Homo sapiens: one gene and its partners. Changing the gene in region 3 together with the main gene of any one other region gives a genetic interaction. Each region holds a gene or a part of one and is shown on either strand. Other genes may lie near its edges.

What was found.
Region 1: changes in ADPRM (region 3) and PHF5A together harm fitness less than expected from each alone (positive genetic interaction), as found in Homo sapiens cells (one large-scale study listed by BioGRID).
Region 2: changes in ADPRM (region 3) and FH together harm fitness less than expected from each alone (positive genetic interaction), as found in Homo sapiens cells (one large-scale study listed by BioGRID).

Annotation. Positions count from the first base shown.
Region 1 is NC_000022.11:41,462,421-41,465,820, forward strand, and holds part of PHF5A (PHD finger-like domain-containing protein 5A), read right to left. Parts: intron 1-3,400.
Region 2 is NC_000001.11:241,509,667-241,513,328, forward strand, and holds part of FH (fumarate hydratase, mitochondrial), read right to left. Parts: intron 2,478-3,662; coding exon 2,301-2,477; intron 1-2,300. UniProt on the Homo sapiens protein: Catalyzes the reversible stereospecific interconversion of fumarate to L-malate. Experiments in other species have demonstrated that specific isoforms of this protein act in defined pathways and favor one direction over the other.
Region 3 is NC_000017.11:10,707,445-10,709,838, forward strand, and holds part of ADPRM (manganese-dependent ADP-ribose/CDP-alcohol diphosphatase), read left to right. Parts: intron 1-2,394. UniProt on the Homo sapiens protein: Hydrolyzes ADP-ribose, IDP-ribose, CDP-glycerol, CDP-choline and CDP-ethanolamine, but not other non-reducing ADP-sugars or CDP-glucose.

The DNA of each region.
Region 1 (3,400 bases), on a different chromosome or scaffold from region 3:
ATCTCCTAGAAAAGAAGTATCGAGTCATTACATTGAGCACTTCCATCTCTGAAGCCTGGTGTACCAAGGAAGCCGCCTACCAATAGCTTGCTAGGTGAACCCAAGTAAGCAACGTAATCTATATTTCATGTCCTCGTAAAAATGAGGCACTAGCTGCCTCTCCTGGACAAAGGCCTGATATTAGACATAATAACAGGACTCTCAACTCTTTAGAGAGGCTATGAAACTCATGATATGATGATAGCTTAAACTGTGCCTTACTGACTTGTGCAAATGTGGGCAAGTTGCTTCTCTTGGGACTTATATTACTCCTCAGCTGCAAAAGAAGAAGACTGGATCAGGTCAAGGTTTACAAACTATCCTTATAGATACCCAAATATTCCTGGAAGGTACCAAGTAATGGTATGACCCAATCCTCCAATCTGCACAGCTCTGTTCTTTACTTACGGGTTAGCTTTTTTTTTTTTTTTCTGAGGTGAAGTCTCATCTGTCGCTCAGGCTGGAGTGCAGTGGCGCTATCTGGGCTCACTGCAACCTCTGCCTCCTGGGTTCAAGCAATTCTCCTGCCTCAGACTCCTGAGTAGCTGGGATTACAGGCACCCACCACCGCACCCAGCTGGTTTTCGTATTTTTAGTAGAGATGGGGTTTCACCATGTTGGTCAGTCTGGTCTCGAACTCCTGACCTCATGATTCGCCTACCTGGGCCTCCCAAAGCGCTGGGATTACAGGCGTGAGCCACTGCCCCTGGCCTACTTACAGCTTAGCTTTAAGATGGTAGGCTCCTGCCCAGCCCCAAAATTTAATTAATTTACATTAACTTTTAACCTTTCTCCTTAGGGGTGCAATGATGAGAAAAAAAAAATAAAAGGTTAAGAAACACTGAGTCACGACGGGCGTGGTGGCTCACGCCTGTAATCCCAGCACTTTGGAAAGCCGAGGCAGGCAGATCACCTGAGGCCAGGAGCTTGAGACCAGGCTGACCAATATGGTGAAACCCCATTTCTACTGAAGATACAAAAATTAGGCTGGACACGGTGGTCCATGACTGTAATCCCAGCAACTTTGGGAGGCCAAGGTGGGTGGATCACAAGGTCAGGAGTTCAAGATCAGCCTAGCCAACATGGTGAAACTCTGTCTCTACTAAAAACAAAAAATTAGCCAGGCGTGGTGGTGCACGCCTGTAATCCCAGCTACTCAGGGGGCTGAGACGGAAGAATTGCTTGAACCCAGGAGGCATAGGTTGCAGTGAGCCAAGATCACACCACTGCACTCCATCCTGGGAGACACAGTAAGACTCTGTCTCAAAAAAAAAAAAAAAAAAAAAAAGCCAGGCATGGTGGCATGTGCCTGTAATCCCAGCTACTTGGGAAGCTTAGGCAGGAGAATCGCTTGAACCTGGGAGGCGGAGATTGTAATGAGCCGAGATCGTGCCATTGCACTCCAGTCTGAGTGACAAGAAAGAAACTGCGTCTCAAAAAAAAAAAGAGTCAGACCACCTAGGCCCTAGTCCTGGGTCTGTCACTTATTAGCCACGTGACCTTGGGCTAACCAAGTTGCTTAACATCTCTAAGCCTTAGCATCCTCATCTGTATCACACAGAACTTTTGGAAAACAATGTTCAGCTAAGTACCTTGCATATATTAAGAGCTTCATAAATGTTAGTGCTATTTTTCTTATTTTCTGGTTGGGCGAACTGAGGAAAATGGTAAACAAAAGGAATAAAGGAATCAAGATTAAGGGGATTACATGATGTGGCACCATAAGAACCTACAAATCAGTCCTCTGGTAGCAATGTCCATAGACATCATCCCTGTCTCCTGGTTATTCTTGTGGCTTTGAAAAATTATAAATGAGAATACCTAGCTTAGCTTACCTGTCTAATTCCCTTATCAATTATGAAAGTTGCAGGAAGACAATAATAACAAGGGGTACCTTGGTTGTAGGAAGGTTTCTGCATAGGAAAGAGCCTCGGCCACTTAATCTACATGATGATCTGTAAGGCTGAGAGCCTGGATCATGTCACTGGACTTCTTTGTGTTCCTTGGAAACTAGTGCTGAAAATGTGAGCTAGATTCCATCTCAAATGTCCTCAGAACATTCGTGTATAATGTGAAGTAGGGGAAGTGACATCTAGAATAAGTCTCAGGGACAGAATGAGGCATGAGGATCCAAAGGTATCAGTTCACACACCACATTCAGAGGAGTCAGACAGCAATTAACATTTATTAAGCATTCTCTGGTTGCAAGCTTACGCTACATAAGAACTCTAGCTAGACCCATGCAAAAATTCAAGAAAATGCTGTCTTAAATGGCTTAAACAGATATCCTGTATCTAGTTTAGGAACTGTTTGTTACTTTTCTTCACTGCTGTTACCTTATCATGCTTTCACTGCTTATAGACCAGAAGTAATTAACAAACACCTACTATGTGCTAGACACCCTACAGGGGATACCTCTGGATGACTTACAGGGACAGCACCAAAATACAAGTACCATGCTTGCACCGCATGTCAGGCACTGTATCATGACCTAAAGAAAAGGAGAGGCAAATAGACAAACCAAAGTCCTGCCTCTAATGAAGTGTAATCTAGCTAGTAGACTAGATTTGGATTTTCGGACAGCAGAATGTGACTTGATAGTTGAAGGTAAATGCAAATCAGAGTTGAGGACAAGAGAAAGGTCCAAATCATTATGTTTTTGGTACTTCAGGACCTTTCTCATCTCCCTAAACAACAGAAGATTCAATGGTGTACTCACTTTTTTTTTTTGAGAAGGAATTTCGCTCTTGTTGCCCAGATTGGAGTGCAATGGTGTGATCTCGGCTCAGCTGACTGCAACCTCTGCCTCCTGGGTTCAAGCGATTCTCCTGCCTCAGCCTCCCAAGTAGCTGGGATTACAGATGTGTGCCACCACGTATTTTTAGTAGAGACGGGGTTTCACCATGTTGGCCAGGCTGCTCTCAAACTCCTGACCTCAGGTGATCCACCTGCCTCAACCTCCCAAAGTGCTGGGATTGCAGGCATGAGCCACTGTGCCTGGCCCAATGGTGTGGTCTTATCTGGCCCAATCTCTCCCACTTACTGGGGGTAGGCAGGATCCAAGTGCGTGAAATGAGGTACTGGCGTTACTGCCTTCACCATGGGCACATCCCAGAAACACTTGTAAAAGGACAACATAAGGCCAGGCGTGATGGCTCACGCCTGTAATCCCAGCACTTCGGGAGGCCCAGATGGGTGGATCGCAAGGTCAGGAGTTTGAGTCCAACCTGGCCAGCATAGTGAAACCCCATCTCTACTAAAAATACAAAAACTAGCTGGGCATAGTGGCATGCACCTGTAGTCCCAGCTACTCGGGAGGCTGAGGCAGGAGAATCGCTTGAACCCAGGAGGCGGAGGCTGT
Region 2 (3,662 bases), on a different chromosome or scaffold from region 3:
TCAGGAAGCTAAGGCATGAGGATCCCTGGAGCTCAGCATTTCCAGGCTGCAGTGAGCTATGCTCACTCTACTGCACTCCAGCCTGGGTGACAGAGTGAAGCACAATCTCTAAACACACACACACACACACACACACACACACACACACACACACACACGCATGCACACACACAGATATATATAAAAGTATACTGTCATTTAAAAAGATACATTATTTATATATTTTGACGTTTACTATGCAAAATATAAAGTACTTACGAAAGAAGTAGGATGAATGGTATAATAAACACTTATGTACCTGTCACCTGAATTCAAATAGTTTACATAATTATCAACATGTAGCCAATCACGTTTCATCTATAACTCTACCTTTCTGAGGCAGACTTCAGACTTCAGTATATATAGAACATAAATTCATAAAGGCAAGTATTAGATTGGGAAAATCCCTTATACAATGAACGTGTATTAAAAACACTTCTTCCTTACTACTTAAAAATATATTAAATTATACTTAGCACCCAGATCTCAGTTTCTAAATATCATTTTCCAATAAGAATTCTCCAACAGTTCCTTGAAAAATGGCTGTTTCTAGGGCTGGGGCAGAAACAATACAAGACAATGAGCTTGGAGCATCTTAAAGTACCAGGAAGTCGGAACACACTTCAGAAAAGTAAAAGGATGGTGGCATGCCTAAAAGGACACAAGAGCCAAATGAATTGGGTTCCCAGAGCTGAAAGAATTTAAGCAACAATATAAACAAAAGTATGGGATCATAACCTGAAGAATAAAATAAATAACCATCAGTCCATACTGATATACCCAAATAACTGAATAAATAAATAAATGGGACAGAGAGAACAAATCTTCCTTGCAGAAAAATTCAACTAACAAGTGTAGAATGAATAAAGAAAACTGAAAATCACTATTAAAACACCATGGAAGTAATTGCTGTAGATAAGATTCCCTGATGAATGCTAAAAATAGTAGGAAAAAGTTTAAGGAAAAAGAAGATGTTTGCCTAGCCTCAAGGTAGCGCGCTATTAATTACTACAGTGATTTTAATGTAAGCCCAAAAACTTTTTGATACTCCTCCCTCTAGAAACTGAAATACAGTGCCTGGAATGCAGGCAGGGTTTAGTGACCTATTTCTAATGAACAGGGTATAGAAGAGGAAAAATTATAATTTTACCATGGAGAAACCTGGCAAGTACCAGCTTAACCAAGTGATTAAGGTTAACATCACCAGTAAAAGTCATGTTGCTATCATGAACCCCTGATATGATGCAATGAGAAGGGCCCTTTATTTCTGTGATAGTTTTCTCAAAAATTCAAAAGTCTCAATCTAATGAGAAAACGTCAGACACACCAGAATTGAGGGACATTCTACAAAATACCTGACCACTGCTTTCAAAGTGTCAAGGTCACTGCTATGTGAAATCCTAACCCCTAGGGTAATAGTATTAGGAGATGCGGCCTTTGCAAGGTGATTAGTTCATAGGGCAAAGCTCTCATGAACGGAATTAGTGTCCTTACGAAGAGACCCCAGAGAGCTCCCTTGTCCCTTCTACCATGTGAGGACACAGAAAAGATGGCCATCTACAAACCAAAAAGTGGGCCCCCACCAAGCCAATGAATTGGCCAGTGGCCTGACCTCGGACTTCTAGCTGCCAGAACTGTGACAAATTAACTTCTTCTATTGTTTATAAGCCAGTCAGTCTATTGTATTTTATTACTGCAGCCCCAAAGGACTGAGACAATCGCAAAAGACCAAGAAACTGTCACAGATTAGAAGAAACCAAGGGGACATGTGACTAAATGTAATGTATAGCATTGATTGGATCCTGAAAAAGAACATGAGTGGAAAAACTGAGGAAAGCCTCAGTTTTTTGTTTTTTTTTTAAAGTCTGTTGTTTAGCTAAGAGTACTGTATCTATGTTAATTTCTTAGTTTTGATAAATGTACCATGGTTACATAAGATGTTAACAATAAGGGAAGCTGAGTGAAGGGATATAGAAACTATTTGAACTATCTTTGCAATTCTCTTATAAATCTAAAATTATTTCAAAATAGAGTTTTAAACAATAAAAAAATACATACACTAAATTCAGGTGTCCTAAAAATAATTTTTATAAGGATTGAAACATAAAACCAAGATTCCTTCAAGAAATAAGAACCATAAGAAGCCTTATCCATTAAATAATGAACACTTCTTGTCAAAAAGTGAATGCTTGTTTTACAAGAACAATCTCAGGTATGCTTTTCAATTTATAACCAAAAAACAGCAAAGCTCACATACTGACCTGGCTTTTATTAACATGATCGTTGGGATGCACAGGTATCTTGCTGCCAAGTTCACCTCCTAACATTTCAATTGCTCTATTGCTAATGACTTCATTTACATTCATATTTGTCTGAGTTCCTGATCCAGTCTGCCATACCACGAGAGGAAAATGATCATTTAATTTACCTTCAGCTACCTGCAGAAAAAATGTTAAAAATGTATTTTAAAAAAGGAAATAATAATGCTGATTATGCCACAGAGTTTGAATACAGTTGACCCACATATCTAAGCTTCTGAAGCATCACTTGCTCCAACCACAGATACTTTAAAAAGTGAAATATTATCTATAGTGAATGGTATGACAATTCACTGGTTTCAAATGAAAAGGGAATCAAAGGTATCTTTCTTATCTCTCTCCCACAGCCTCCTCTAACAGAGGACCACCTGTTAAGGCTGGCAAATACGTTTAGTCTCTAGATATATTTGTTGCTGGTGCTCAGCAGGAATATCCAACAGATGTTATTGCCAGAGTCAGCATGCTAATGAGCTAGTAACTTGAAAATGTGAGTTCACTAATAGCTACTTCATTGCACAGATGTCCAATGAGCAGTAATCACCAAATGTAGAAATAAACGCTGCCCAGATTTGCCCCTATTTTTGTTGTATTTTTATACATCCAGCTTATGTGTTAGTTTTTGGATGGTGTGCTTTGTAAAATATGGGTGGTTAACAATCTTCTGGAATGATTTTAGCTTAAAAAATCAGAATGCACTTGAGAAATCTATTACCTTGAACAACTGGTCCACTTTAAAATAAAACTTTTTTCTGGTTATATAAAAATATGTGATTAGTGTAGAAAATTTTGAGAACTGAGAAAAGTAAAACAGTCACTATAGTTCTATTGCTCAGTAATTATGACTATTAGCATGTTGGCATCCCCAGTCTCTATCTCATGCAATGAGGGTGTGTGTGTGTGTGTGTGTGTGTGTGTATATGAGAAACACACACTTTCTGTTCATTTTTTCCTAAACAAAATTAGGATCGTAAAATACATATATTTTTGCAAACTTTCCTCCCTATTTCTCATAGGCTAGGCTTTGTGCATGCCAATCTTCAAAAAAGTAATTTTCTATAATTTACCATATAAATATAATTTATATAAGTAGCTGTTATAGTTACGCATTGTCTAATTTGTTTTCATTATTATAAATAGTGCTGTAATTAACAACACTATATATACAGTTCTGTTACCTCTGATTGCTTCTTTAAGACAATGTTATTAGCATATTAGTAAAATTACATTCTCAATATGCATTATCAAATAATCAACTGGTTTTAAAAAGATTTATATATAAAATAAAAAATCAAGTAAAGTTCAAAT
Region 3 (2,394 bases):
GTGTGGAATCCAGGTTGCAATCAGCTTATAAAGGAGCTTGACACCACACTAAACAATTTGTTAGTGGAAGTCATTACCAGGGCTTGGATCCTTTCCTCAAGGTAGGGAAGCCCTGAGTTTCATAAACTCTAATGAAGTAATTTCTAAGTGAGAAATTCAGTTAGGGGACCATACCAAATCTCAGCCTTAGAGACCTGCCTATCAGCAAAGTGGCCACCAAACAGAGGCCACTGCTGCCCAGATGCAGCAAAACTGGTATCACAGGGCATGTGTGCTACAGGCTCGGCTGGCACTGAGCACTGTGCAAGCTGTGCCTCCCACACAGTCACAAGGAAGTTAGATTTGTATTTTCATATAGAATCATTTTTGATGGGTACACTGCCATCAGAGATTGTAGGAATCCAGGGGTGCTTAAAACATACAAGCGTGTATGTGCGCATGGGCACGTGAAAACATACACGGAACTGAATTTGGGTTTGCAGCATGGCTGGGAGACTTGGTTTGGAGGTTGAGATTAGAACCCTTGGTTTAGAGTTAGAATTGATGTGGGATAACAGGTGAGAAGGCTAGACTGAGAGCTGGAAGGACAGGATGCCATTCTGGCTCTGGTTTATATGAACTGTGTAGTCCTGGGCAAATAGCAAACCTACAAACTGCAGTGTTCTCAGTAGTGTATCTAATGAAATTATGAATATGAAACCCCTGGCCAAGCACGGTGACTCACGCCCGTAATCCCAGCACTTTGGAAGGCTGAGGTGGGCAGATCATGAGGTCAGGAGTTCGAGACCAGCCTAGCCAACATGGTGAAACCCCGTCTCTACTAAAAATACAAAAATTAGCCGGGCGTGGTGGCAGGCGCCTGTAATCCCAGCTACTCGGGAGGCTGAGGCAGGAGAATCACCTGAAACCAGAAGGCAGAGGTTGCAGTGAGCCAAGATCACCCCACTGCACTCCAGCCTGGGCAACAAGAGTGAAACTCCGTCTCAAAAAAAAAAAAAAAAAAAAACCTTTGAAAATGATAGGCTATTCAGATAGTTGATTATATAAAACTATATTTCTATCTGTAAAGGTAGTTTTTACTTACTAATCTTCCACTGATGTGGTAAAAACACGTAGAAGGAGCAGAAGTGTTTCTGCTAACACTGGAATACCAGGTGTCATTCAAGGGTTGGAAGAGATGAGTGCCCTTGGGTTGTTGGAATGATGTGACACCTTTTGGCTCTATAATAAGTGGTCTCAGAAACTAGGATACTTCTTGACTTGTGTCTGCTTTTAAGTTTTCCACTCTCAGCCTGTTCTGGAGCTGAAAGGAAGCTAGAGTCATATAGCCAAACCTTTGAATTTTAAAGATAAGGAAACTGAAGCCCAAAGAGACTGAATTGCATAGCAGAATCATGGAGCTGCTGACAGCACTGAGACTAGAATCCATGCTTTATGTCTCCATCCCCTTTCCCATGTGATCCTGTGTTCTTCCCTTTTCTTTTTACTCATGGCGGTACACCTATCTAATTTAGCAGTCTCTTACATTTCTTCTACCATTTGATGTAAGCCTAGAAACTGGAAAAGCAAACTTTTAAAAACGGAATGATTGAAGTTTTCTTTAGTAAAGTTTAAAAGTTAAAGTGTAATAAAAAAATTTTCTTTTGCTTTTTAACTTTCATTATGGCTACTCCAAGGTCATCCTATACCTTTTGAATTTTGGCCGTGCAGTTGGAAGGATAGAATTGCCATTAGCTGAGATAGGGGACACTGCAGGATGAGAAGTGCGAGTGGAGAGGGTAGGGCTTCAGGTTTGGAAATAGAAGTTTCAGATGCCTACTAGACATCAGTGGAGATGTTGAGTGGGCAGTTTGGACATTAGAAGTCTGAAATTCAGAATAGAGATTTGGGCTAGATAATAAACGTGGAAGTTGAAAGAGTGTAGATGACATTTAAGGCATGTAAATCACTAAGAGATCACCAGTGCATTCAGTATAAATAGAGAAGTCCGAGGACCAAGCATTCAGGCACTCCTGGTAAGACGTTGGGGAAATGAGGGGGAACCAGCATAGGAGACTGGAAATTAGTGGCCATTGAAGTTGGGGAAAAACTAGAAAGACACCCCTGGGAGAAACAGTGGTGTCCTGGAATCCAAGTGTTTCAGGGAGAAGGGAACAACTAATGGCGTCAAATGCTGCAGGGACTTGATAGATGAGTCAATATGGCTTCGAGGTGCTGGAAAGCAGCACACGCCTTTGGACGCTTAGCCCTAAGGTGGTAATCAGCACATGTATGCACTTTAAAAAAAAAATTGTATTACAAACAGATATTAAATAGAAGCATGTTTAAATTTTGGAATAAAAATGAACGGTAATAGACAAAAAGTGATTTAATGGGAAGATGCAACGTGAGCTG